7 linked regions of the Homo sapiens genome follow. The gene in region 1 interacts genetically with each later gene. Each region holds a gene or a part of one and is shown on either strand. Other genes may lie near its edges.

Region 1 (4,253 bases):
AAGCCTGAGTGCTCCTAACCATTGTGCTTGAGTGACAGCCTCTGGGCACAGGCACCAGGTGGAGGAGAGCACCTCACCGAGCCCCAAGAGGAGCAGAATGGCACTGCCCAAGGGAGACTCTATATCCTAGGTCTTTTTAAAGATCTTGAGTAACCTGATTAAATCCTCCCTGCATCCCTCAAGTTCCTGAGTTAGAGCCACATGTTTTCAAGGGCCAAATGGCATTCTAGAAACCTGCATATATTGCTGGTGGGAATGTAAAATGGTGCAGCCACTTTAGAAAACAGTTTGGCAGGTCCTCGAATGATTAAACATAGAATTACCACATGACCCAGCAATTCTGTTCCCAGAGAAATGAAAACGTAAGTCCACATAGAGACTTTGCATGAATGTTCATAACAGCATTACACACAATAGCCAAAAAGTGCAAACAACCCAAATGTCCATCAACTGATGAATGGGTAAAGAAAATGTGGTCTACACTGTGGAATATTATTCTGCCATAAAAAGGAATGAAGTATTGATTCATGCTACAACATGGATAAACCTTGAAAACCTCTTAGGTAATCTCATTATGCTGAATGAAGGAATCTGGTCACAAAAGGCCATATATTATGCAATTCCATTCACATAAAAATGTCCAGAACAGGCAAATTCATCAAGACAGAAAACAGATTAGTGGTTACCTAGGGCTGTGGGGTTGGGGAAGCAATGGTTGAGGGAAAATGGGGAGTGACTGCTAACGAATAGAGGGTTTCTTTTCAGGCAGTGAAAAAGTTCTAAAATTAGATAGTCGTTATGGCCTCACAACTTGTGAATATATAAAAACCACATATTGTGAATATAATAATAACTGTACACTCTAGAAAGATGACTTTTATGATATGTGTGAATTATAGCTCAGAGTTATACCCCTGTATCCATCTGTCTACTTATCTATCCAGGCAGAGAGGTACAGAGGGGTCATCCTCATCTGAAGGTACGAAGAAGAGCTGGGCCTGGCTGGTGTGAGTGGAGGTTTTCCTAGTAAATGGAGCTGTCTTTCCCGGCTGACGCCTTACCTGGTATATGAGTATTTGTTGTTACTTCTGTTGTAGAGCAACTTCACGGCTGGCTGTGGGTTGTTTTAAAAGAAGAAGAAGAGAGTTACTTGGCAGGCAGATGCAATGAACTACTAGCTTCCCATAGGGCTGGGGCCCTGCCCTGCATCAGAAGAGGCAGACAAGCATAGCTTGCTGGCTGGAGAGGGGGACCACATGACCCAATAGCAGGGGCACAAAAGATGACCTGTAGCTTCCCACTGTGAACCCATTATCAGGCCTCACTCAGGCAATTATACATGTTTTTATTTCAAAAGTTATTCAGAAGAACCTCCATCATTTCTGGTAGCAAAAGAAATTCCACAAGGGTGCCTCCAACATACCTTATTTGAAGTCGCTATAAGTTTTTGTTCTTCCTTGGATGAGGTGATCACAGGGACCTTGCAGAAAGGCTCATAAGTATCTTTGTTCTGCTGGAACAAAACATGCTTTCAGCCTAGGAGGCCTGCCTAGCACTGCATTTTTAAAGTTGACCGGCTGGACAGGCTCTGGCGAGGGGAGATGGGGCAGTCATGGCTGGGAAGAGAGAAGGATTCTCACCACCAGTGAACTAGATGGGGGAAGACAGGGAGTTGAATTTCCCAGTAAGTCTGCTCTTTGGCTATGACCATGATAGGCCAGGATGCTGAGTAAGTACTAACAATGATGACACATTTTCCACAGCCCAGGAAGCCACTCAAAAATAAACCCTTGACGTGGCAGCAGAAACGTGTTTTAATCAAAAGCTCCTAAAACCCCACTACCATGACTGCAGAGGAATTAAAAAAAAAAGCATAAACCCATAAGGGGAAAAAGAATGGGAGAAGTGAGGTCAGCAGACCAGTAAAAAAAGTCAAAAATTTGAGGGTAGAAAGGTCACAGGTGAGCGTTAACCAAGGAGAGGGGGAAAGCTGAAACCAGTGGGCGGAAGCACTGGAAAGATCCCCAAATCCATCTCCGTCCCCATGCAGGCAGAAGAAAGGGCCATCTTCCTGCAGTGGTTTGCACGGTAGAGGACAGGGCTGAGCTGCGATTCTGAAAACGGGGGGACAAGTGAACATCACACTAAGTGATGAGCAACCCCAGCTCCTTCCCCTTCCAGATCCCCAAAGGCAGCCGGCCAGGCCTAGACCCGTCAGGCAGGAGGAGAGTAGAGGATTCCTCTTCAGGAACACCACCTGCTTCCCCCAAAATGGCTTACAGATTCTGACAGTTGGGGGTCCCGCTGAAAAAGTCTGCCTTATCACCCACAATGCAGCCCAGTGGACAACAAGGACCTTCCATGCACAAACAGCTTTCAGAGTCTCTCATTCCTTCAACAGACAGCCAAGCATCATCAGATTACATGTGAAAAGCCTCTTTAACATGAGAACAAAACCAAAACAAAGACAGGAAAAGAGGAGGAGTCAGATAATGAAGGGAGAAGAAAGAAAACAAACAGAATCATCAGACAGTTGAGAGCAGATACGGCCTCCTAGGAAACAAGATGAGCACGCTGTGGAAAGCAGGGCATTCGGACAGCAAGAAAAGGCTCCTGAAGTTAGAAAGACGAAGCAGAAATGAAAATTTTGATAGAAGGGTTGAAAAGGTGAAAAATAAAACTTCTGAGAAAGTAGAACAAAAGGATAAAGCCAGAGACACTAAGAGGAAAGAATTAGGAGGTCAGTCCTGGAGGTCTAACCTTAGACTAACAGAAACGAGACCCAGGGGCATGTCTCCAAGACAAAGATGAAACAGAACCTCTGATGTGTCTGAACACACCACTATGAGACCGCTGAGAACGTGGGGCTGAAGTAGGAACATATATTTAGAAAACCAAGTGAACAAAACAATGAGGCAATCCCTAACTCTGGCAAACTTAAAGTTATAGAAGAAAGAAAATAATCACTGTACACTCTGTGGCTTAACTGTCAGCCGTATTTACACGTCATGACGTAAACTCTGAATTTAACCAAAACTGTGATGAACTGTACTGGGAGAATGGGAGAAGGAAAAGTATGCCTAAGCTTGGTGGGGGTAGAGGTAGGGGCAGTGCGTGAGCTAAATTCTAGTTTCTATAGTCATGCCAGTAGATAATGTCAAAAACTGGGAATTCAATAAAGAGCAGCACAGGCGAATTATGTGGAAACATAAATGTGAACAGAAAAAACTGCTGAAAGAATTCACAGAGGTTACTGCAAGGGTGAAGGAGAGTAGGAGGGGTATGGTGGTGTTTTGATGTTAACCTTGCAGCACTATTTGACTTCTTGAAGGATGCATGTGCATCACTTTCAACAGTGTAGTAATAATAAAAAAGTAAATGCTGCAACATTCAGTTAGGTCTGCAGTGAGTTCAGACTCTCAGAGTAGAGGTGGTGTGCAGCATTATGGGTACTGGTCCGGTGCGGGGCCAGACACAGACATGTGGTGTGGGGGAGGCCCAAACAAGGGCCTCATGCACACAGACCAGATTCCTACGAAAACCCAAAGGGATGCTTCTGATGCTCTGCCACGTTGCAACTTTGTTTGAAATAAAGGGGTGTTGGCCATGTCTAGAAGCATTTTGTTTTTGTGGGATTTTACTGTCACCAGACCTGACTCCAGTGGTCCTGCTCTGTCTAGCTAAGGAGTGAGGGGTGTCTGTCTGTAGAGATTATGCTGAGCTCCCAACAATGACTTGTGGGACTAGAGTAAGCCCTAAGATTGGTCCCGAACACCGACCAAGTTTCACACCGCGGGGTTCTCTGCTGAAGGGTTGAGATGTACACATGAGAAGATCCAACAGCATGGGGCTGCAAGGAGTGACACAGTAGTTAGGTGGCCTGCTGTTCCAGGGAGGCCTCTCAGGGGTCACTCCAACCGAAGGAATCGGGCTCCAGGGCAAACTCATTAACTCTCACAACATCTCAGTCAGACAGAAACTGCCCCCATTTTGCAGAGAGGGAAAATGAGGAAGGCAGGTAGGCTTGGTGCCTCTCCACCCATATGGGAAGAAAGGGTGATGCCTACTTGTAGGGCCGCCTGGCACTCTTCCACCAGGCCTTGGACTAGGTAGTACTTGGCTTCTGCTAGCAGCTCCTCGATCTCCCGGCGGCTCTCGGGTAAAGGCACCGCCCCGTCTCGAAGGTAGTTGAGTATCGTACCAAAGTGCTTCCCACAGCGGTCAATGAGGATCCAGCCTGCAGAGGGAGGAGG
Region 2 (3,116 bases), on another chromosome or scaffold:
ACAAGATTTATTTAAGCCTTTACTATGTTGGATCCTGAGAATATAAAATTTTAAGAAGTTTAAAGTCCCTAGGTGGGCTTTAAGCCTAGCAGTGGCGATAATTGTCTTTTCTTAAAAAAATCTTCTTTCACAGTGTAATATACATAGTACAATAGTAGAAGCATTTTCAAAATCTAGAGATGGGAATGATTTGGCATAGGGAAAGGGGGTAATTGCAGAATTTAGGAAAGGCAAACAGGAGGTAATGACTTGAATAAGATTTTAAAGGATGAATAGGAATAGGGATGGAGGTTGGGGGACGGTGAGGTGGTTGGGTGTGATAGACTTTCCTTGAGTGCCTTCAGTGAGCTAGATACTGTTGTAGATACTGGGTTTATAGCAATAAACAGAAGTCCTTATGGAGCTTACATTCTAGGGAGAGGAGATGGATGATAAAATGTATTTATCTCTTATAGTAATAAGTGTTATGAAGAGAAATAAACCAGGATAGAAAGAAATTGATGAGTGAGTGTGGAAGTTGCTATTTTACTTTGGGTAGTTGAGAAAGACCACTTTGATCAGGTGACATAAGAGTAGAGATCTGCAGTGAGGGAAAGAGCCATGTAGATGTTCCGGAAGGAGAGGAACAGCATGTGCAAAGGCCCTTGGGTCATAGCCTGCTTGGCCTGTTCAAAGAATAGCCAAGGTTTATTGGCTAAAGAAGAGGGATGGTAGCAGATGCAGTCAGGAGTGGCATATTAAGGGCAGGACAGTTTGTGTAGGGCTCTTGTAAGTTAAGGTAAGGGCTTCAGACTTTACTATCGAGTCCTATAGAAGTCTATATACAGATTCATTTGATTGTTCCATACACTGTCTTGCCTGTAAATATTAATTTGGATGTTGATTTTTATTTAATATAAAAACAGAAAAGGGGTCAGGCGCGGTGGCTCACACTTGTAGTCCCAACACTTTGGGAGGCCGAGGCAGGCGGATCACTTGACGCCAGCAGTTTGAGACCAGCCTGGCCAACATGGTGAAACCCCATCTCTGCTAAAAATACAAAAATTAACCAGGCATGGTGGTGCCTGTAATCCCAGCTACTCGGGAGGCTGAGGCAGGAGAATCACTTGAACCTGGGAGGCGGAGGTTGCAGTGAGCCGAGATTGCGCCACTCCAGCCTGGACGACACAGTGAGACCCTGTCTCAAAAAAAAAAAAAAAAAAAAACAGAAGAGGTTAATAATTCTGGATGTGGAATTCTTTCAAATGCTTAATTTAGATTGACACATGCTACCTCTTTGATCACTTTTAGAGCAAATGTAAAAAGTAGAACTTTGAAAAGATCATTCTTTTCCTTTCCCATTTTTTGCTTCTATCTTCGCCTTAGCCTGCCTGCTCACTGCATAAGTTTATGATTATGGTAATGTTCTTATACAGATCCAAAGGTCAGAAATGAATTGGAAACTATTCCCATTTGAAAAATATCTGTTGTGGTATAAATGTGCTGTTTTCTTTCCTCTTCTCCCTGACTTTAGGGAACTGCTCGCAGAAAGAAGAAGGTGGTTCATAGAACAGCCACAGCAGATGACAAAAAACTTCAGTTCTCCTTAAAGAAGTTAGGGGTAAACAATATCTCTGGTATTGAAGAGGCAAGTATCAAATTTTGTTACTTTAAAAAACAAGATTTGGCTGGGAAAAGTTAACGTTAATGCATTAAATGGGTTGTTTTTTTTTTTTTTAACTTAGGGACTTCAAAGTCCCTAAGATGTGTTTCTACCATAAATTAATAAATATCAGGGAGCTCATTAAGTCTGAATGCTATTAGAATACATATTCCATTCCAGGCAAAATTTCACCTGTGCTTCACAGTGAAATACTAGTTAGCCAGACTTAGTTTAATAAAACATTTGTTTTTAAAGAGACTGGTCAGCATTGCTAATTTAAATTTTTCTTTTCTTAATAGGTGAATATGTTTACAAACCAAGGAACAGTGATCCACTTTAACAACCCTAAAGTTCAGGCATCTCTGGCAGCGAACACTTTCACCATTACAGGCCATGCTGAGACAAAGCAGCTGACAGAAATGCTACCCAGCATCTTAAACCAGCTTGGTGCGGATAGTCTGACTAGTTTAAGGAGACTGGCCGAAGCTCTGCCCAAACAATGTGAGTTTCCTAGTAATGGTTTTACCAGGGAATTACTCATTTAGCAGCTGATTTCTGATCTCAGGGCTCAGAATGGATATGAGTATTTTTAAGTTTGGAAATGCAAGCTTTAAAAATAACAGATTTGTAACTGATTTTAAGCAACTGTCCTTGCTCAAGTTTGCAGTAATTGATGTAGCGTGCCATGATTGTTACACTTGATTTTGTGGAATGTTTTCTACTTACTTGATTTGGATCAGATACTTTATTAACTAGAAATGATGAAAATGTTAATTTGGTGCTTTGCCAATAACTACTTGTAAGTTTGGAATTGAAAAAAAAATTAGTGTAAATTATGAAATTACTTCAGTTTCATCTATATAGTTCGTATTACCAGTAATCTTTTAAAAATGGCTTGCCAGTATTCTGGCATTTTTAATTACAGTGTGATAGGGATTTTATTCGGGGCAGAAAATAGTGTAGCTGAATATACATCTGAGGATGTGGCAGTGTTATGCTGTTTTCTGTGCTTAAAATTTTGAAGAATAGGAATGCAGGAGGAAGTCAGAGGCTTATATATGGCTCTTTAGTTACCCATGTTTTTCTAGGTATTGACTTAATCTGCCTCAATTTTCATTTTTATTATCACATTGAGTTGCAGGTTCTAAACTGTCAGGGCTTTCAGAGCTGAAATAGGCTTTTGAAGTATCCCACTGATGCCTGTATGGGCCTAGTACATAACTCTCCTGTGTACGTTCATATTCTTGTGTGATAAAGGAGAGTGGATGCTTACCACTCACAGACTCTTTAATTTTTTTACTTTAACTTTTTTCATTTCAGTAAGTGGTTGTTGAGCATCACCCTTATGCCACACACAGAGTAGTTGAGAAAATGGCATCTTCATTTGTCTCCCAAAATCTCACCATGATTTGGTATGTGGGTTTTACCTGCACTCTAAGAGTTCCCTACTGCCCTTATACTACCTCAGGGCCTA
Region 3 (4,253 bases), about 16 Mb from region 1:
CTGGGCAACATAGTTGGGTCATATAGTGAGACCCCATCTCTATTAAAAAAAAATTAATAATAAAAAATATAAATTAAAAAAAAACAATTTTGTATCTCTGAATATAAACCAACTAGATGATATACATTTTCACTGAAAGAAACATGACTGGGTGACAGAATTAAGTGTTCTGAAATATGCAGACAAGAAAACTCAAGACAACAGTATTTTAGTTAACAAGAAACTCAGTAAAATTTCTACTCTGTGTTTACACAGACATTTGTTTGTGCCCTCATGACACACTTATCACATTCTGCCTCATATTCTGGGCATTCTTAGTGTTGCTAGATGTCTGTTTCACCTACAAGTCTAAATAAGTTCCTTAAGGCCAGGAACTGTACCTTGTTCATTACTGTGTCCCCTATAGTGCCTACACATTAAAAAGTGATTGCCGAACTGCCTCTCAAATGTTTCTGCATAACTGATGTTTGAAAAATTCATAAGGACTGGGCATGGTGGCTCACGCCTGTAATACCAGAACTTTGGGAGGCTGAGGCAGGTGGATCACTTGAACCCAGGAGTTCAAGACCAGCCTGGGCAACATGGCAAAACTCCATCTCTACAAAGAAATACAAAACATAGGCCAAGCGTAGTGGCTCACGTCTGTAATCCCAGCACTTTGGGAGGCTGAGGTGGGTAGATCACCTGAGGTCAGGAGATCGAGACCAGCCTGATCAACATGGTGGAACCCCATCTCTACTAAAAATACAAAATTAGCCGGGCATGGTGGTACATGCCTATAATCCCAGCTACTTGGGAGGCTGAGGCAGGAAAATCACTTGAATCTGGGAGGCGGAGGTTGCAGTGGGCCAAGATCATGCCATTGCACTCCAGCCTGGGCAACAAGAGTGAAACTCCATCTCAAAAATAAATAAATAAATAAATAACCAGACATGGTAGTACACATCTGTAGTCTTGCTTACTTGGGAGACTGAGATAGCAGGATCACCTGAGCCCAGGGAGGTCGAAGCTGCAGTGGGCCAAGACTGCACCACTGCACTCCAGCCTGGGCAACAGAGTGAGACTTCACCTTGAAAAAAAAATAAGGAAACATTCATTACCTGATATTTTACCAATGGAAGTAATTCTGGATATAGAAGTAGCAGAAGCTCTAAATATATAATTAGGACCAATGCCAAAGTTAACAGCAATTAAGCTCAATGTGCCAAAAGAATTTCAATTAACAATAATTTCTGTAATTTATGAGTTATTCTTGTTACATATATATATTTAATTGCATTTTGAAAGAGCTATGAAAGCTAAAAGTTGTCCCATCTTCAAATGCTCAGTATTTTACCTTGCTACAGAAAAGGAAGTACAGTAGAAAGTATACAGGACAAAGTAAGGTGGGAGATCCAGATTTTGGTCACAGTTTTTGTTTACCAAATATGTGACCCTGGGTGAACTTATGAGGGCCACAGAACTCAAGTTTCTTTACCTTCATAAAGAGGATAATACTACATGGGCTACCAAAATCAAAGCTGTTATAAGGATCAAATGGCTTAACATGCTTTGAAAACTGTGAAGTGTTCTACACTCCCGGGCTGACTGACCATTTGGGAAATTTTAAAATATTCCTTCTAGAATATAAGGAAGGCTTTTTATTTTTGCTCACTGAACTTTCTTCCTTAATCATGATTTCGCTTTGCCTCCAATCTTACTGTCCTTCCCTTTTTTATTAAACATCAATAATAACAGTAATGAAACTTTCTTTAATTTTAATTTTTTATTTTTGAGACAGGGTCTCACTCTGTCTCCCAGGCTGGAGTACAATGGCACAATCACAGCCTCGAACTCCTGGGCTCAAGCAATCTTCCTACCTCAGCCTCCTGAGTAAGCTGGCTCCCTCCTGGGACCACAGGCGTGTACCACCTCGCCCAGCTAATTTTTGTAACTTTTGTAGAAATGAGGTTTCCTATGTTGCCCAGCCTGGTCTCAAACTTCAGAGCCTGCTTCAGCCTGCCAAAGTGCTGGTATTACAGGTGTGAGCCACCCTGCCCAGCCCTTTACTTTCAATAATAGTAGCAACAGGAACTTTGCAGTATAAGGGACTTTTCGGATATAAGAAGTTAGGTCACTGAGTATTAGGATAACTGATAATGGAATGATTTTCTAGGGTAACCTAATTCTTAGTTAACTAGATATTTTGAGAGTTAACTCTAAACCATTCAGATTACTTGAACAAACACTGATAGATCTCCTATCATGAATGAGAGGCCCCAGGGACACCAAAATGAATTAGATCCAGTACAAACTTAGTGGGAAATCCAGTGGGGAAAAAGATATATAAATAATTTTCAATTATTCAGGGACACATTAACTGGTTTTCTGATGGGCCTGTGTGAGGACTAATTGTTTCAAAACATAGTCTATGTAAAAACTGATTGGATGTGACTTCTCATTAGCCTAGGAGCTGGGTTCCTGCAAGGCAAAGAGGAATCTAAGAAGTAAGAGTAAGGGTCTTTCTCCCAATTCTCAACAACAAAAATGCTCCTAGATAATCAAAAGCTGATTGCAGTTTTGTTGTGACTTATTTTGGTTTATATCCAAAGTCTCTTAAGCAATGTCCTGTTCTATTTACTGAATTCTAAGTTGATTTTACTTTGAATATAATGTAATAAATGTTTCTATGTTTAGGGCCCTAAAAAATGGGAGAGTGGGGCAAGCAAGGAAGCAGGGATGGAAAGCTTCCTATAAGAGCAGGATTTGGTGGCCAGGTGCGGTGGCTCATGCCTATAATCCCAGCACTCTCGGAGGCTGAGGTGGGCAGATCACTTGAGGTCAGGAGTTTGAGACCAGTTTTGGCCAACATGGTGAAACCCCTCCCCTGCTAAAAATACAAAAATTAGGCCAGGCGCAATGGCTCACACCTGTAATCTCAGCACTTCGGGAGGCCAAGGCAGGAGGATCATTTAAGGTTGGGAGTTCGAGACCAGCCTGGCCAACATGGTGAAACTTTACCTCTACTAAAAATACAAATATTAACCAGGCCTGGTGGTAGGTGCCTATAATCCCAGCTACTCGGGAGGCTGAGGCAGGAGAATCACTTGAACCTGGGAGGCAGAAGTTGCAGTGTGCCAAGATCATGCCTCTGCACTCCAGCCTGGGAGCAAGATCCAGTCTCAAAAAATAAAATAAAATAAAATAGAGTAGGATCTGGCAAACTTTTGAGCATTCTATTCAACAAAGGTGTTTACTGAGTAAAATATTTTCCTCGTCTCAAGCATAACAAATTGCCTATTTATTACTTTACTTATACTCCATTCTTCAAATAGCTCTTTTCTCCCTAATTCAATAAGCAAACTTTCAATTACAAATGGTGGTAAATAGGAAATAAGAAAGAAGAGACAAAGGTCAAGGTCAAGCAGAGTTGTATTTAAAAAGTCAGCTGCACTTGCATGTTTATCAGAGCACTATTCACAATAGCGAAGACATGGAAACAAGCCCATCAATGGTGGACTGGAAGAATATGTGGTGTATATGCATACCATGGATTATTACACAGACATTAAAACAAATAAAATCATGTCCTTTACAGCAACACAGATGCAGCTGGAGGCCATTATCCTAAGTGAATTAATGCAAAAACAGCCAAATACTACATGTTCTAACTTACAAGTAGGAGGTAAACATTGGGTACATATGGACACAAAGATGGGAACAATAAACACTGGGGACTCAAAACAGAATGGAGGGATGGAGGGAAGAGTTGAAAAACTACCTATTGGGTACTATGTTCACTATTTGGGTGACGGGTTCAGTTGAAGCCCAAACCTCAGTATATGTAATACATCCACGTAACAAACCTGCACATGTACGCCCGAATCTAAAATAAAAAATAAAAATAAAAAGTTGGCTCACATAGTTTAATATAAAAAGGCAAACCTACTGTTGCCTTCTATACATGTCTACTTTAGAAATGGAAAGCTTCCTATAAGAGCTGTTTATAAGAGCTATAAACTCTGTTTACAGACAGGAAAAGGAAAAAGAAAGCACAGTTGGCTGAGAAAAAAGACTTTAATACTCTATTTACTTATTTGGGTCCATGCTTTGACTGTCAAACATGTATTAACAAGCTTTCGAGAAAATACTAACTATATACAGTTCTTTAGAAAAGAAAGGCAGAAATTACATTTCATTTTTTTAAAAATGGCTAGGTACATAGAAAAAACACAATGACAATCCACCAAAATATTAACAATGATTATCTTTGG
Region 4 (4,253 bases), on another chromosome or scaffold:
TGATCTTAACATTTCTTTATATTAATTTTCCTTACGGTATTGCTTTGTACAGAGTCAGTATATAGTAAGTATTTGAAACATTAAATTTACATGCATTGGCATATTGGCAATATTTATTTCTTGGCATATTTCTTTTATTTTCTAATCAGTTTAGAAAGTTGAAATAATACCTGTAACTCTTTTGTTTCTTGAAGTTTTCTTTTTTCAGCTTGTTCAAACTTTTCTTTCCACACTCTTTCCAAAGACAAAGAAAATAACAGAGTTAAAAACATCCAGATGTATAAGATTGAGAGTCAAGAGACAATCAATGAAAATTAGGCAACTACCTAGTAATATTTAAAATATGATAATCTGGGAGTGGGCTGCTCTATTCATAAGGAAGGTCGGAAAAATACTCAGTATCCTCTTGAGGTCCCTGCCATTCCTATGATTCCAGAGCAACACACTTAACATTTAGAGTACTGACTGTACTCTACCTTTGCATTTCTGCCATGTCTCTCTCCTGTTGATGCAGTTTCATTCTTAAGGATGTTATTTCTTGCCGACAGAGCCTGTATCGTTCAGGGTCAATATTCCGACTGTTTCTCTGAGCAGCTTTTAGCTTTGCAATTTCTGCCTTCAATTCTGAAGATTTATACAAAGATGCATTAATAATAACATTTAATATATAACAATTTCCACAGTAAGCATAATCCTCCAATCTTCTATTTCATTTGAAGTTTTAAATACAGTATTACTAAATAAAATAGAATATTGGAGAAATCAGCTCTACTTTATATAACCTATAAATCTTTACTTAGTCTTAACCTGAAATATGCTCCCATATTAATGAACTTTCCCTGTTCATAAGTAGGAAAGCTGTATAATGTACTGACCAAAGTGGAACACTTTTGAGAGGCAAAAGGGTAATTGTTAAAGTGAAAGTTTATTTAAAAAGTAAAGAAATAAAAGAATGGCTATTCACTAGGCAGAACAGCCAAGATCAAAGATTTTTCAAGCTGGAATTCAGAATATTTATTTATTTATTTATTTAGACAGAGTCTCACTGTCTAGAGTGCAGTGGTACGATCTCGGCTCATTGCAACCTCCGCCTCCTGGGCTCAAGCAATTCTCCTGCCTCAGCTTCCCGAGTAGCCAGGATTACAGGTGCCCACCACTGTGTCTGGCTAATTTTTGTATTTTTAGTAGAGACAGGGTTTCCCCATGTTGGCCAGGCTGGTCTCGAACTCCTGACCTTAAGTAGTCCGCCTGCGTTAGCCTCTCAAAGTGCTGGGATTATAGGCATGAGCCACCATGCCCGGCCCAGAATACTTATTTTTAATGAAAACAGTCCCACTTGTGAAACAGAAGGGATCCAAAAGGGAAAGGATGGACCAGGATAGACAAATCAGATTCTTCTCTGGCTCATACATCTGAAGTGTCTATCACCTTCTGCTGCTAAAAAGGGCCAGAGGACAAAGGGGCATGAAAAGATGATAGTTCTACATCAGCAAAGATAAAACTGTACAAATCAAGATTTCTTGCAGGCATTAAAGTCTATCCTAAATTGATGATTACCTAGAGATAAATAGAAAGCAGTATTTAGCATAAATGAAGTTCAGCCTATACTAGAAACTCGAGCTCCAATTGCCTTTGGATCAATGAACTAAGCATGAGCAGAGCTAGTACATAAAACGTCAATGGAAGAGAGGTCATAAGAGAAAAATAGTAAATAGTTTTATTGGCATTTTGCTGCACACGTCTATGACTGTGTAAATTTATTGTTTAATGCTTACTGTTTCCCCCTTACTCACACTCTGTTTTCTATGTTCTTTTCCTAATTGTTTTTCTCCTTATTACTTATTATCTGTCCTTCTACCTATCATCCTCCATCACTATAGGCTGATGACTAGAATCTATTAAAATAGGTATAGAAAAACACCTTTGATGTTCATAAATTACATATTTTAAGACTGCAACTAATATCTGGGACTAAACTGTGGCAAAACAATTTTTAAATTCTGAGAAAATATTCACCTCTAATTAACTTAGCGTTCATATCTTCATTTACTTTAGCAATGTTGACTATTAAACGGGCTTGGTTAGCATATCTAAGTGTGCTTAATGTTTCTTCTATGTTGCTGGCAGCGGGACTAATCGTAGCAATCATTGCAGTTTTTGAATTTCCACCCAGACTTTCTTTTAACAGCCTACAAGAAAAAAAGTCATAAGACTTTGCTTCTACAACAACTTAATAACAGTAATTATCTAGAAAGCACAAAACAAACTAATAGGGTATATAATACAGTATTATTATACTCTACTCAAATACCATTTAAAACTTTTCTGGTATTTGTAACTATTTCTAGATCTCATAAACACTTTTTCTCTCTTACACTTTTTATATTGTTTCAAGAGGCAATAATCTGTGCAGAGATTCTAAAATGTGGTGGATCATCAAGTATTTCATGACTGTGAGCTACCATAGGGAAGGGACTATGTGTCTTGGTCATCTTTGTATTTCCAGTGCTACCACAACCTTTTGAAGCAGGTGCTCAATAAATGTTGAAAATGATGAACATTGAAACAAAAATTCTATATTGTACTAAAAGCAAAATCTTTATTTTAGAGAAAAAGAGTATGAGACTTAAAACATATATTAGTGCAGAATGAATGTCACTATTTTTAACTTTCATAAGACATGAAAAAAATCAGATTTTCCCTTATAGGTTTCAAGGTGGCAATCACATTGTAATAAACCAATTATAAAGACACATTACCCTCAAGTAAAGATGCAGTCCTTATTGTAACTGTATATTAATGCCTATCACAACTGAATATTAAATCCATACAGATGTAATCTGAATGTAACATATTGAAAATTAAATATACATTCACTAATGAAAACATTTATTGAGCACCCATGTATTAGTCACTGTGTAGTAAGCAAACAAAATTATTCAACTTCTCTTTATACAACTAGCAATATGTTTGGTAGTACCATATATGTTCAAACATCAGCCACAAATAATAGTTAAGTACAAGAACAGTTATTTACACTCATATAGTACATATTATGTATTAAGAATTGTACACTAATAATCTAATTCTCACTTACCCCTAAAAGGTATTGATTTTATTCCTATTTTACAGATGAGGAAACGGGCTAGAATATTAAGTAATTTGCCCAAAGTCACAGAGCTTATAAGATGCTGAGCTGAGATTCAAATCCAGGTAGTTTGGCTCTAGAATTCATAATGCTTACCACCTTTCTCCATCCCAAAGTTAATGAAGTCAGTCTATCATTCTTTTCCCCATAGTATTCACTATATTTTATACAATTCTTTATACTTCAAAAGATACTTGCCATGTAAGAACAGATTCACGATAAGGAATAAAAACACTCCTTTGGTTTGCTTGTTCCGAAAGTGCAGATATAACTTTTCCCAAAGTTAGCAAGGACTTATTAATACTCACACCTTCCTGCATGCAAGAAAAAAAAAATTTTTAACTTAAAATACTTCTCAGCAAGAAATTTATTTCACAAAATATATTTCTCCCCTCATATAATTACTGAGTAAATACTTTTTTACTTTCTTTTTTTTTGAGACAGAGTCTCACTCTGTTGCCCAGGCTGGAGTGCAGTGGCATAAACATGGCTCACTGTAGCCTCGACCATCCAGGCTCAAGCAATCCTCCCACCTGAACCAAGTAGCTGGGACTACAGACACATGCCACAATGCCTGTCTATAAATACTTTTTTCTATAAACTACCAACTTTCTTATGACTCAAACGTATTTTCTTTAAAAATTAATCATAACCAAAAAGTACGTATCTCTTTTTCAACCACAGCAATGCAGTCTATAAACTGCAGATAAAGATATATTTGGGGAGGTTAAGTGTATTCAGTTTGTATTCTCCTTAAAATAATGACCTCAGGAATAAATTTCATCAAAAGGAGAAAAAGCATTCCATTTACCTTTAGTCGATCTCCATTAGTGTGAGCCGTAGAGCAGCGCTCACTGCCTGCCAGATCTATTAGGTTAATTCGACTTGTTATTCTGTGATCGTGTTCTTCCCCTTCCACAAATTCTGTCTACAGCAAAATGATATTAAATTAAATTAAGTTCTATTACTTCCAATCAATATAGGTTTTTTTAAAGGGAAAGCTGTAAAAGATTACACATCACTCTTTTATTTTTTAAATAGTCTCTTCTTTTTTTTTGAGACAGGGTCTCACTCTGTTGCCCAGGCTGGAGTACAGTGGCATCAT
Region 5 (3,783 bases), on another chromosome or scaffold:
GGAGCCATTGTGATTAATGCTGGGAAAAGAACACTAAAATGTGCTCGTAGACAAGTTGTTTTTATCTCTGAGCTTTTATTTTTATCTGTAAATACAACAAATAATATTCCAGTCCTAAAATGGATACTTCATAGGCAAAGTTAGAATAAGTAAATAACATTGTTATGAGTTCATCATATAAAGCTCTTAGAAAAATGCTTAGCACATAGTAGATGCTCAATAAATATTAGCTTTTATTAATATTATTATTACCATATATAATGTGGTTTGGAAAGAACTTACTAAGAGTAGCAGCCTTAGAGGGACCAAGACAAATTCACTGCCCTTCTCTAATTAGTAGAGGACTCTGTCACCAGATACAAATCGAAATTTTTCTTTTTGTTAAAGAGTTAAGGCAATTGTACTGAATTTTTCTCAATTTTTAGTTTCCTCACATGACTTAGATTTTGATGCTGTACAAAATAAATAATTTTCATTTAAATTTGACAAATGCTTTGGAGATTACTGAAATTTTTTCAAGTATCCTACATACATAGTTGCAAAATAAAGGCAGTTTTTTAAAATGTCACATGCTATTTTTATTGAAATCTATCTGTACGTAACTACATGTTCTTTTTCAAGGTTATGGAATTAGAATCAAAGCTAAATGAAGCAAAAGAAGAATTTACGTCAGGTGGACCTCTTGGTCAGAAACGAGACCCAAAAGAATGGATTCCCCGTCCGCCAGAAAAATATGCATTGAGTGGTCACAGGAGTCCAGTCACTCGAGTCATTTTCCATCCTGTGTTCAGTGTTATGGTCTCTGCTTCAGAGGATGCTACAATTAAGGTAATTTTTTGTTAAAAGCAGACTTAACGGGAGGCTGAAGCAGGAGAATGGCATGAACCCGGGAGGCGGAGTTTGCAGTGAGCCGAGATTGCACCACTGCACTCCAGCCTGGGCGACAGAGCCACACTCTGTCTCAAAAAAAAAAAGCAGACTTAATAGGGTGAAGAAAATTAAAAGATCCTGAAAATGAGGGCCTATGAAGAGGGACAGGAGGTACTCTGAAACGTGTGATTTGGTTCTAAATCTTAAAAGACAGAATTGGAATAAAATATCATTGTGGCTCCTGAGAGGCATGCTGCCAGGTAAGTTTGATGGTGAATTTGAGAAAGTCGGGTGTCACTAACTGAGTTGATGTCAGTACATCACCTTGTGCTTGAACAATTTTTGTTCTTGGAGAATGAAAAGTGTGTGTCTTACCTTTAAACGGAGGTTATGTGTGAAATACTGATTGACAAAACTAGTAATTGATAGGGTGAATCTATACTGCAAAAGAATTCAGTAGAGGATTCATTTAAATTGGGCTTTCCTTGATGTATTTAAAATTGGCTTTCCAGGAGTGTGGGAATATACAAGCTTTTCATTTTATAAATTACGTATTTCATTAAAAAATTTTTTTCACAGTAAAAATATTATTACCTTTTAATGTTGTGCTTTTTTAATTAGGAAAAGAGTTGTTTTTAAGTTGCCTTTGTTCCGGACACAATAAAATGACCGTTGTATAAACCACCTACAGAAAGATAAGATAGTTGCAATATAGGTAGATTTAGGTAGATGCCTCTATCCTAAGGGTTATTTCAAAGTAAGTTACAGATATTAAGTTTCATTTACAAAAGTATAACCAATCGGCCGGGCACGGTGGCTCACGCCTGTAATCCCAGCACTTTGGGAGGCCGAGGCGGGTGGATTGCCTGAGCTCAGGAGTTCAAGACCAGCCTGAGCAACACGGAGAAACCCCATCTCTACTAAAATACAAAAAAATTAGCTGGGCATGGCAGCGTGCGCCTGTAGTCCCAGCTACTTGGAAGGCTGAGGCAGGAAATTCGCTTGAACCCAGGAGACAGGTTGCAGTTAGCCAAGATCGCTCCACTGCACTCCAGCCTGGGCGACAGAGCGAGACTGTCTCAAAAAGGTAGTTACAACTAACCAAATAGTAACGACGGTTTGGCCTTACTACTAACAGCAGAAGAAATAAACACTGAAATTATGGGCCGGGTGTGGTAGCTCATGCCTATAGTCCTAGGACTTTGGGAGGCCAAGGTGGGAGGACTGCTTGAGCTCAGGAGTTAGAGAGCAGCCTGGGCAACATAGCAAGACCTCGTCTCTACTTAAAATTAGCCAGGTATGGTGGTGCATGCCTGTAGTCCTAGCTACTCAGGAGGCTGAGATGGGAGGATCACATGAGCCTGGGAGTTGGAGGCTGCAGTGAGCTATGATTGAGCCAGTGTACTCCAGCCTGGGCGAAGAGTGAGACCCTGTCTTAAAAACAAAAAAATTGGACTGGGCACGGTAGCTCATGCCTGTAATCCCAGCACTTTGGGAGGCCAAGGTGGGTGGATCATGAGGTCAGGAGATCGAGACCATCCTGGCTAACATGGTGAAACCCCGTCTCTACTAAAAAATACAAAAAATTAGCCGGGAGTGATGGCGGGCTCCTGTAGTCCCAGCTACTCGGGAGGCTGAGTCAGGAGAATGGCGTGAACCCGGGAGGCGGAGCTTGCAGTGAGCCAAGATCGCGCCACTGCACTCCAGCCTGGGCGACAAGAGTGAGACACACATACATATATATGTGTGTCAAATTGTCAAGGTATTTTACCTATTAAATAAGAATTCCCAGTGATGATAAGATTTTGATAAAGTAGTCATTCTCATTACATATGATACAGTCTTACGGGATATCAATTTAATAGAGTATATGAAGGCTTTAAAAGTTTATACTTTTTGACCCACTAATTGTTTCTCCCCATTACTGTCTGACCTAGGTATTATAAAATGAGGACAGAATTTTTTTATATTAAAAAATGTTCACTATAATGTTTTCTATAATAGTGATTTAGCCAGCAATTAGAATTTTTTTTTTTTTTTTGAGATGGAGTTTCACTCTTGTTACCCAGGCTGGAGTGCAGTGGTATGATCTTGGCTCACTGCAGCCTCCGCCTCCCAGGTTCAAGCAATTCTGCCTCAGCCTCCCGAGTAGCCGGGAGTACAGGCGCCCACCACTGTGCCTGGCTAATTTTTTGTGTTTTTTAGTAGAGACGGGGTTTCACCATATTAGCCAGGATAGTCTCGAACTGACCTCGTGGTCCGCCCGCCTTGGCCTTCCTAAGTGCTGGGATTACAGGCGTGAGCCACTGCGCCCGGCCATATTTCATTTTTTAACTCAAAATGACATATGCTCTTGTTCATTTGCTATTCGTGAACAGTTAACATCTTCTGAAATCTTTCCTTGGCCCTTTAGATGTCTGAGTTCTGATGGTCTAGTAGGATCGAGTATTCATCCATTGTTCCTCAAATATTCTACATACAAATGCCTGCTATAGCCCTCTGAAGCTCCTTCCCTTCCCCTTCCCTTTCCCCTTTCTTTCCCTTTCCTTTCCATCTCTTTCTCTTTCTTTCCTCTTATTTCTTCCCCTTAAGTTTCCTTATTTACATGTCATTCCTGCTCTGAGACAGGGAGCGGACTATGTCTTGTGACTTTATATACCTTATCACTATTACAGTTGGTTATGTGATAGAAACCTTATAAATGTGGTTCTAGAGATAGATTTTAATAATTGCAACATTAGTTTTCCCTGTAGAAAAAAAGACCAATTTATACATGAGATACAATATTTCTAAAATAGTTATCCTTTGTTACTTGTTCGGTTAGTTACTCAGTAAGGTGCCAGACTGGCCTGCTGAGTGCAAATGTGAAACAAGAAAGGAGTGATGGAGTTGGTGTTAACCAATTTTCTGTTC
Region 6 (4,792 bases), on another chromosome or scaffold:
GGGCCCCTGCATTCTAGCCTGGGCAACAGAGCGAGACTCCGTCTCAAAAAAAAAAAAAGAAAAAGAAAAAGAAGAAAAAAGAAATAGATGCTGTGGGTATTCAGATCTGTCAGAGTGCTAGCTCAGCCTAGCCCTTCAAGTAGCAGAATAAAGGAGGAAAGAGCATCCCAGGCCTTCCCATCCCCATTCAACTCCCTCAGTTAGAGTGGTCCTAAGATTGCGGTGGGGGGGTAGGGCTGTGTTGAAGAGGTTAAAAACAGAGATTAGTCAGATCCAATCCTGCTCCCACTCTATGGAGGAAACAAATTCGAATACATAGTCACAGCCCAGGCTCTGGGATTGAGAGACAGAGAGAGAGATTGGATTGGAGAGAGAGAGAGAGAGAGATGGGATTGGAGAGACAGAGAGATAGATGGGACTGGAGAGACAGAGAGAGGGGTTCTGTGGCTCTGGAAGCCTAGAGAACAGAGCCTGAAGACAGAGAGGAAAGGGAGTAAAGGGGAGGCATTTATGCAGAGATCTCAGAAGTGAATATGAAAGGCACCCCTAGCAGAACGCACAGCTTGGGCAAGGAGGCTTGCTGGCATGAAAACGCAAGAAGTGCTCAGGCAGCTGTAATTCTCCAGGACATCAGATAAAAGGTAAAAAACAGATGGGAGACGCGCCTAGACAGGGTATTGAATACCAGCCCGAGGGGCTTGGGTTTCATCCAAACAGCAAGGCAACTGAGCTCAACACAGTGAGACTCGGTCTCCACAAACATTTTTTTAAAAATTGGCCGGGCCTAGCGGCGCGCGCCGATAGTCCCAGCTATTTCTGCAGGCTGAGGCGAGAGGATCATTTGAGCTCGGGGAGGTCCAGGCGGCAGTGAGCCAAGATCCTGCCACTGCACTACAGTCTGGGCAACAGAGCGAGACCCTGTCTTTAAAAAAGTAAAAAAAAAAAAAAAAAAAAAAGAAAGAAAAAGAAAAAAGAGAGAAGGGCAAGTCGCTCCCTTCTCTGGGCCTTGGCATAAATCAAGCACAAATCAAAGTCTCACTCCCTCCTCCTGCCGCGCAACGGCGCGGAGAGCCAGCCAGCCAGCCAGCGGAACCACGGCCTGGTAACCCAAAACCTGCACACCCTCCAGCTCCCCACAGGACGTCACGTATTACCACCGACGCACGCGCAGAAGCCTTCCCGGGGACTCAAGAAAGGGCAGGCTTAGCCTCCTCCCCATGTCGCCCCTCATTGGCTAGAAACTACTGCTCGTCTCGGTCGTTGTTAGCAGCGACCAGGGCGGGTACAATCTTGGTCGCTAGGACACGGCTAACTTCCGCTTTCTTCCCCCTCTCCTAGGCTCAAACTAGTCAAATCTTGTTCACTCGACCAATGGCAAATCGGAAGTGGGCGGGACTTCACAAGTCCGGACCAAAGAAACGCGAGCTTAGCCCTGGGTAGCGCGGCCAATGGCCGTGGAGCAGCCCCTGTAAACTGGCTCGGGCGCCCCCACGCCCGCCCTTCCTTCTTCTCCCAGCATTGCCCCCCCCACGTTTCAGCACAGCGCTGGCCGCAGTCTGACAGGAAAGGGACGGAGCCAAGATGGCGGCGGCCGACGGCGACGACTCGCTGTACCCCATCGCGGTGCTCATAGACGAACTCCGCAATGAGGACGTTCAGGTCCGGAGGCTACGGGGGACTTGGGGAAGACGCGGAGGGGTACCTGGGGGCACGGGCGGCCCTCGCGGAGAAGACTCAGCGTTCGCTGGGAGTGGCGGAAGGGGGCGACGGCCAATCAGCGTGCGTCTCTTATCTCCCCGGTTGCCCGGACTCCTTGAGACGGCGCTCCCGATTGGGTGTCGGCCCAGTGGAGGGCGGGGGCCAGCGCTAGCCTCGAGGGTCCCGGGCCTGCCCTGTGCGCGCGGCGGTCCGCGGTCCTGGGAGGTTGTGGCCAGGGCTGGGGTCTGCGGACTGGGTCTGGGAGAGAGGAGGACTCCGTGATTGGCGGCGGCCTCTGAATGGCCTCTTGGGGATGTGGGGCGCGCATGACTTGCTCCAAGTAGGGGAGGGCCGCCGGGTGGGTCGGGACCTGGGAAGGTTTTTTTGTTTTCTGGGTTTCGACTGCTGGGCCAAGTGGGGACCGAGAGGCGAAGGCCTGCCATCCTAATTCCTGCTCTTCCTCCGCCTCTCATTTTGGTTTAGGTGTCCTAAGAGGACGGGGACGCAAAAACACCCCCCCACCAAAGGTGGGGACTAGCCAAGTTTAGGAGCGAATTAGGTTGTAGAAACCCGCCTCCCCATCTCCCCGGATCCTCCCATTGACCAGGATAGGGGTTGAGGGATTTGCTAAGCAGATGAACATTTATTTATTTCTTTTTTTTGAGACAGTCTCTGTGTCGCCCAGGCTGGGGCTGGGGAGCAGTGGCGCGATCTCGGCTCAGTGCAACCTCTGCATACCGGGTTCAAACCATCCTCGCCCCTCAGCTCCCTAATTAGCTGCGATTACCGGCGCGAGCCACCACGCCCGACTAATTTTTGTATTTTTAGCAGAGACGGGGTTTCACCATGTTGGCCAGGCTTGGTCGGGAACTCTTGACCTCAAGCGATCCACCCGCCTCGGCCTCCCAAAGTGTTGGAATTACAGGCGTGAGCCACCGCGCCCAGCCCGGATGAACATTCCTGGTTATGGGATGAGGTGACCCAAGGCTCTGAGCCGGGCTGGTGTGGGATTGAGAACAGTTAGAACTGCAAGTCCACCTCCCACCTGCTGTGTGACCTTGTGCAAATTACTTCACCGCTTTGGGTCTCTGTGTTCCATAAAATATGGGCTAATTGTAGTCCTGGTCTTGCTGGAGGGACTTGTGAGGGACTGAACGAATTATGACACAAATAAAAAGTAGAATGGTGTCAGGCCTGTTGTAAGGGCTCGATAAATATTAGCTGTAATTATTGGGAGTGGTGATTAAAGAGGTCCCATCCTCCCTTTAGGTCTGTTTTCCCATTTATAAAATTGGACAAGGTGCACTGGGTAACCTGCCAAACGTGGGTCTCGCCTCCTAGGTTCCTGGTATATCACTGTTTCTGGTGGCATACAGGTTGTGGTTGTATTCCCGGCCCTTCCACTTGTTACTGATTGACAAGGGCAAGTTAGTTAATCTCTCTAGGCCTGTTTCCTCTTCTCTTTAATGGGGTTAATTACCTAGTTCATAGGGCGGTTGTATGAATTCTTTTGTTCAGTAAATATATGCCATGTATGAGATATGATGCTGGGGATATAGTGGAGACACCAGTTGCTATACAGGATCCAGATGTGAAACAGGTCAGCAGAGCTGAATAGATGAGTGTTTGAAAAGTGATGGGAAGGAAACAAATAGGATGTAGTGGTAGCGAATCCATATTGAATTGGGCCTCTATTCTGTGCAGGGCGCTGTTCTAAGCACTGGTATATAGCAGGAACAAGACAGAAAAAACTCTAGGCCTTGGGGAGTTTATTTTGTAGTGAGGAGAGACAGACAATAAACAGAGTATACTGGGGATAAGCATTAGGGAGACAAATAAAAATAAGAGAGATGGGGTATATATAGGGCATGCAGTTTTAAAGTGTGGTCAGGGGAGGCCTTGTTGAGATCCTGTTTGAGAACACGCCTGAAAGCAGAGGGCACAGCAAGTACAAAGTGGGGTGGGGCAGATCCATTTTAAGAAGGCCAATCAGGCAAGGCCCCTCTGAGGATGCAGAGTTTGAGAAGAGATTGAAAGAAGGTGGGGGAGAGCCTCCCAGGAAGAGGGAACAGATATGTAATGGCCTTTTTTTTTTTTTCTTCTTTTTTTGAGACGGAGTCTTGTTGCTCTGTTTCCCAGGCTGGAGTGCACTGACGCGATCTTTGCTCACTGCAACCTCCACCTCCCGGGTTCAAGCAATTCTCCTGCCTCAGCCTCTTGAGTAGCTGGGACTACAGACGCAGGCCACCACGCCTGGCTGATTTTTGTGTGTGTGTTTTTAGAAGAGACTGGGTTTCCCGGTGTTGGCCAGGCTGGTCTCAGACTCCTGATCTCAGGTGATCCTCCTGCCTCGGCCTCCGAAAGTGCTGGAATTACAGGCGTGAGCCACTATGCCCGGCCAGTTTTTTGTTTTTTTTAACTCCAGGATCACTTCCTTCAGCTATCTATCCTCCCATCTTTTCATTCATCCATCCATCCACTAACCAGCAGACATTTGTAGGGAGATGTCTTTGTGCCAGGATCAGAGCTAGGCAGCTTACCGGTTTATTCTAAAGAATATTGCAAAGGATACAGATGAAGACACATGCAGGGTGAGGTGTGGGGGAAGTTGTGTGGAGCTTCCATGCCCTCCCTAGGCATTCCACCCCCCAGGAACCGCGAGGTGTTCATCTGTCTGGAAGCTCCTATGGCTGCTTTTGTGCTACAGCCCAGAGTTGCATGGTTGTAACAGAGATGGCCGCAAAGCTTCAAATATTTGCTGTCTAACCCTTTGCAGGGAAAAAATTGCTGACCTCTGACTTAAACCATCTGCGTAACAAATTATTGGGTGCTTGCTCTATGTTAGGTACAGTACAGAGGAATATCACTGACGATCTTACTGAATTCTCACAATCACTCTTTGAAGTAGGTCCTGTCCTTGTCCACATTTTCCAGATGAGGAAACTGAAGCACCATAAATAACATGGCCAAAGCTGTGCAGCTGAGAAATGAAGGAGCCAGGAAAGGAAGTAGGACCTAAGGGTGGAATAGAATCTGGGGTGGGACACACGGTTGCTGATTATATTCATATGCCAGACATTTTAATTGTGTCTGA
Region 7 (4,253 bases), on another chromosome or scaffold:
GGCAGTATGGCCATTTTCACGATATTGATTCTTCCTACCCATGAGCATGGAATGTTCTTCCATTTGTTTGTATCCTCTTTAAGTTCATTGAGCAGTGGTTTGTAGTTGTCCTTGAAGAGGTCCTTCACATCCCTTGTAAGTTGGATTCCTAGGTATTTTATTCTCTTTGAAGCAATTGTGAATGGGAGTTCACTCATGATTTGGCTCTCTTTTTGTCTGTTATTGGTGTATAAGAATGCTTGTGATTTTTGTACATTGATTTTGTGTCCTGAGACTTTTTGCTGAAGTTGCTTATCAGTTTAAGGAGATTTTGGGCTGAGACAATGGGGTTTTCTAGATATACAATCATGTCATCTGCAAACAGAGACAATTTGACTTCCTCTTTTCCTAATTGAATACCCTTTATTTCCTTCTCCTGCCTGATTGCCCTGGCCAGAACTTCCAACACTATGTTGAATAGGAGTGGTAAGAGAGGGCATCCCTGTCTTGTGCCAGTTTTCAAAGGGAATGCTTCCAGGTTTTGCCCATTCAGTATGATATTGGCTGTGGGTTTGTCATAGATAGCTCTTATTATTTTGAGATACGTCCCATCAATACCTAACTTATTGAGAGTTTTTAGCATGAAGAGTTGTTGAATTTTGTCAAAGGCCTTTTCTGCATCTATTGAGATAATCATGTGGTTTTTGTCTTTGGTTCTGTTTATATGCTGGATTACATTTATTGATTTGCGTATATTGAACCAGCCTTGCATCCCAGGGATGAAGCCCACTTGATCATGGTGGATAATAAGCTTTTTGATGTGCTGCTGGATTCGGTTTGCCAGTATTTTATTGAGGATTTTTGCATCAATGTTCATCAAGGATATTGGTCTAAAATTCTCCTTTTTGGTTGTGTCTCTGCCCGAAGCCCAGGTTTTTAAAGTAAACTATATGCCAATGTGGGCTTTGAGAAGACAGCTTTCTGGGTCATGGTACGGAAATGAGATACACTTAGTTTCTGCTTTGTCAAGGGATCCAGTATTTAAGAATATTTTGGGCTGCTCTCCCTCCCTCATTTTCTACCTTTTTAAGGACTGGATGGTCTTTCCTTGATTATCAGATTCAATTTTTCAAGGTTGGTAAAACTGTCTGGATCTAAGTATTACTTTCTTTCAGTTTTACAACAGTTAATGATTTTGTCAAACACCCCAGGTGGTGATTACTCATGTGTTTATTGGTTTGTTGTGATTTTATTGTGAAAGCATGACTATGTAAAACATCCTAGAATCTTGGTAGAAAAATTTTACTCAAGAAAGGAAACAAAGACACTTTTAGGAAATGCGAACTGCTAGTTTTCTCAGGGTTTCCAGCATTCCCAAAGAATAGTGAGCATTTCATGTAGCTTTTTTTGTGTTTCTCTTCTGAAGTAAAGTAGACTTGACGTAATATATTGTTTTATAAATAAAAAGTTACTTTTTAATCAAACACACTATAGATCATAAAAGTAGCCATTTAAGAAATATGTAAAGCTTTTTGGGTGTAATCTTTTGTGCATTCTAGAGGAAAATCTTGTTCTGCTCTGTTAAATGCTTAGGTATTAGAAATCTTTTTAAACACTTTGGGTACTTTTCTGGCACTGCAAGGATAGTGGATATGATTACCATGTTCTTATACCTGGCTAATTTTCTGTTTTTTTTTGAATTCAGTATATTTAAAGTTGGAGTTCGTTGCTAAAGATGGCAGACCCAGATGTCCTCACTGAAGTTCCAGCAGCATTGAAGCGGTTAGCCAAGTATGTGATCCGGGGATTTTATGGCATTGAGCATGCCTTGGCCTTGGACATCTTGATCAGGAACTCCTGTGTGAAAGAGGAGGATATGCTGGAGCTGCTCAAGTTTGATCGGAAGCAACTTCGATCAGTTTTGAATAATTTAAAGGGAGACAAGTTTATCAAATGCAGAATGAGGGTAGAGACTGCTGCAGACGGGAAAACCACTCGCCATAACTACTACTTCATCAATTATCGTACTCTTGTTAATGTGGTAAAATATAAACTGGACCACATGAGAAGAAGAATTGAGACCGATGAGAGAGATTCGACCAACCGGGCTTCCTTCAAATGTCCTGTCTGTAGTAGTACTTTCACAGACTTAGAAGCTAATCAGCTCTTTGATCCTATGACAGGTGAGGTTTATCCAGTTTGTGAATCTTTAAAATAAAGTGTGTATTACCTTTTTTCTTAAATTGATTCATCTAATTTTTAAACCATCATATATATTATTATAAAAGTGAATGGATCAGTGTAAATCACAGCATACAGTCAGTCTTACTGTCCTGTTTGGCTGTCGCACTACTTTGAGAAGCCTTTGCAAAGCGTTTCTCCTTTACAAGGGAGTTTCTCACTTATGGCCCTCCTGCCTCTGCCCACCCCACCTTGTTTACAACTGCAGCCTAATCTGAAGGGTTGATTTCTCTACCACTTTGAGGCTGTTCTAATTTTATTTTTGACCTCTAGACAGTTGCAATACAGTGTATTTAAATGCTTTGTTAGTGGAAGTAGAAAGTGGTATCAGGAGTATATAACTAGGGCATATAATCTGGATTTGGGGAAGGCCTCTGGAAGAAGTTAACATTTGAGACCTAAAAGATAGTAAGAGTTAGCTAGATGAAATAAGAGGGGAATTCTTTCCAAGATAAGACATTTAGTGTCCTTTAGATACACATTATTGTTGGAAGAAAATTGTCAACAAGATATATAATTGGCCTGATTTGATTGAATAGTTTTAAGGATTTTTCATAACACAATTTAGAAAGCATGCATTATCTGAAAATACAATATGTCTAGCATAAACATGAGAAACTTTAAAGTTCTGAGTTATATAGTTATTTTATCTTGTTATCTGTTTACACAATAAAAAAGAGACTAGTTTTGCTAAATACTCGATCAATTTTGTCTTATTTTCTACAGGTAAAAATCTATAGAAGGACTCAGTGCTATTAAATTAGATTAAGTCCCTTTGTTATGGTTGAATTCAGGAGTATAGGCTACTTTTTAGTTCATAGATCTGCTTTTTTAAAAACTTCGTCTGAAAGTTTAAACTTTGACCCATGAAATATTTGGTTGTGCAAAATTACAGATTTCTGTGTATGTTTTATTTTCTAATTTTTATGTTATATATGGTACATTTTAAATAATTAAAAAAAATTTTTAAGTGGGAAATAACCCCAATATAAATTAAGATTATTGACAAAAAGAGCCAGAAGCAATCTGTGACCTTTTTTTCTTATTTACTGTGAGGCAATGATTTTGGATGAAAACTGATTTAAGGAATTCACAATTGTATTAAACATTTAATTTGTCTGAGCCGAGCTTTTTACCTTGAAAGGGCTCCACAAGGAGAGATCTTGATTATAAGAAAGTCTTAACCATCCTCGGTATGAGAATTGCTTGAGTGTTCTATAGAGGAAGGTTGTAGAATATATCTGGAGCTCTTCAAAATAGACTAGAAAAGTCTCATGATTCTTGCCATTCACTCTAACAGATTTCTTACAGGAGCTCTGGGTTCTTGGTTTTGTAATTCTCTACAGATGTTGGTTTTAACAGTGGAGGCTTCATCACTCTTGACCACAGTAGAAGGTGTTATCCAGTCCCTTAGAGTAATCTAAAATAACATGCTTCTACTACATTTATTTGTCATTTGAGTCATATTAATTTAATTAAACTTTCTAAAAGGAGATGATTCCACTACTTATATATCAGTATTTGGGAGACTGATCATGATACTCTTGAATTTCACCTGGATTCTGAATGAAACTAGTTGACTCAATAGATGGCCTGTGGAAGAGATGGCCTAACATTCCATCCAGTACAGTCAAGGTGACTTGAATCAAGGAGTTAGGGTAGAGGGCATGAAAGTATTTTATGAAATAAAGCTAAAACTGAAACAATTGTGTTGTGGCCAGTCTGAACAAAGACTATTTTTAATGTGAGGGCTATGGTCAGCATGAAGATGAAAAGAAGGGGTGCCTGAGAGCAAGAATAAGCCACTTAATCTTAATGTCACTCAGGGGAGGGTGCCCTGGTCAGCCAACACTAATGCTTAATTGGCAGTTATGTCCTACAGTAAAGCCTGAGGTATCATGATTAAAAATTTATAATCATTAGGGACCCTCATTCTGAGAACATACTTGCCTTTTTATTGTAACGTGGCTTTTCATTTAGATGCTCCTTTAAGGAGAAAATGTGCTGATTAGGTGATATTAGGCTCTAGTTTG

The links.
Region 2: changes in KCTD10 (region 1) and BTF3 together harm fitness more than expected from each alone (negative genetic interaction), as found in Homo sapiens cells (one large-scale study listed by BioGRID).
Region 3: changes in KCTD10 (region 1) and MRPL42 together harm fitness more than expected from each alone (negative genetic interaction), as found in Homo sapiens cells (one large-scale study listed by BioGRID).
Region 4: changes in KCTD10 (region 1) and KIF14 together harm fitness more than expected from each alone (negative genetic interaction), as found in Homo sapiens cells (one large-scale study listed by BioGRID).
Region 5: changes in KCTD10 (region 1) and PAFAH1B1 together harm fitness more than expected from each alone (negative genetic interaction), as found in Homo sapiens cells (one large-scale study listed by BioGRID).
Region 6: changes in KCTD10 (region 1) and PPP2R1A together harm fitness more than expected from each alone (negative genetic interaction), as found in Homo sapiens cells (one large-scale study listed by BioGRID).
Region 7: changes in KCTD10 (region 1) and GTF2E1 together harm fitness more than expected from each alone (negative genetic interaction), as found in Homo sapiens cells (one large-scale study listed by BioGRID).

What each region holds. Positions count from the first base shown.
Region 1 is NC_000012.12:109,456,569-109,460,821, forward strand, and holds part of KCTD10 (BTB/POZ domain-containing adapter for CUL3-mediated RhoA degradation protein 3), read right to left. Parts: intron 4,238-4,253; coding exon 4,068-4,237; intron 1,514-4,067; coding exon of another isoform or gene 1,511-1,513; coding exon 1,424-1,510; intron 1,115-1,423; coding exon 1,062-1,114; intron 1-1,061. UniProt on the Homo sapiens protein: Substrate-specific adapter of a BCR (BTB-CUL3-RBX1) E3 ubiquitin-protein ligase complex. The BCR(BACURD3) E3 ubiquitin ligase complex mediates the ubiquitination of target proteins, leading to their degradation by the proteasome.
Region 2 is NC_000005.10:73,500,975-73,504,090, forward strand, and holds part of BTF3 (transcription factor BTF3), read left to right. Parts: intron 1-1,513; coding exon 1,514-1,627; intron 1,628-1,941; coding exon 1,942-2,143; intron 2,144-3,116. UniProt on the Homo sapiens protein: When associated with NACA, prevents inappropriate targeting of non-secretory polypeptides to the endoplasmic reticulum (ER).
Region 3 is NC_000012.12:93,470,098-93,474,350, reverse strand, and holds part of MRPL42 (large ribosomal subunit protein mL42 precursor), read right to left. Parts: intron 3,866-4,253; exon of another isoform or gene 3,761-3,865; intron 1-3,760.
Region 4 is NC_000001.11:200,599,880-200,604,132, forward strand, and holds part of KIF14 (kinesin-like protein KIF14), read right to left. Parts: intron 4,077-4,253; coding exon 3,960-4,076; intron 3,463-3,959; coding exon 3,347-3,462; intron 2,190-3,346; coding exon 2,017-2,189; intron 625-2,016; coding exon 477-624; intron 235-476; coding exon 171-234; intron 1-170. UniProt on the Homo sapiens protein: Microtubule motor protein that binds to microtubules with high affinity through each tubulin heterodimer and has an ATPase activity. Plays a role in many processes like cell division, cytokinesis and also in cell proliferation and apoptosis.
Region 5 is NC_000017.11:2,666,371-2,670,153, forward strand, and holds part of PAFAH1B1 (platelet-activating factor acetylhydrolase IB subunit beta), read left to right. Parts: intron 1-621; coding exon 622-828; intron 829-3,783. UniProt on the Homo sapiens protein: Regulatory subunit (beta subunit) of the cytosolic type I platelet-activating factor (PAF) acetylhydrolase (PAF-AH (I)), an enzyme that catalyzes the hydrolyze of the acetyl group at the sn-2 position of PAF and its analogs and participates in PAF inactivation.
Region 6 is NC_000019.10:52,188,516-52,193,307, forward strand, and holds the start of PPP2R1A (serine/threonine-protein phosphatase 2A 65 kDa regulatory subunit A alpha isoform), read left to right. Parts: upstream 1-1,536; 5' UTR 1,537-1,581; coding exon 1,582-1,659; intron 1,660-4,792. UniProt on the Homo sapiens protein: The PR65 subunit of protein phosphatase 2A serves as a scaffolding molecule to coordinate the assembly of the catalytic subunit and a variable regulatory B subunit.
Region 7 is NC_000003.12:120,748,839-120,753,091, forward strand, and holds part of GTF2E1 (general transcription factor IIE subunit 1), read left to right. Parts: intron 1-1,684; 5' UTR 1,685-1,714; coding exon 1,715-2,162; intron 2,163-4,253.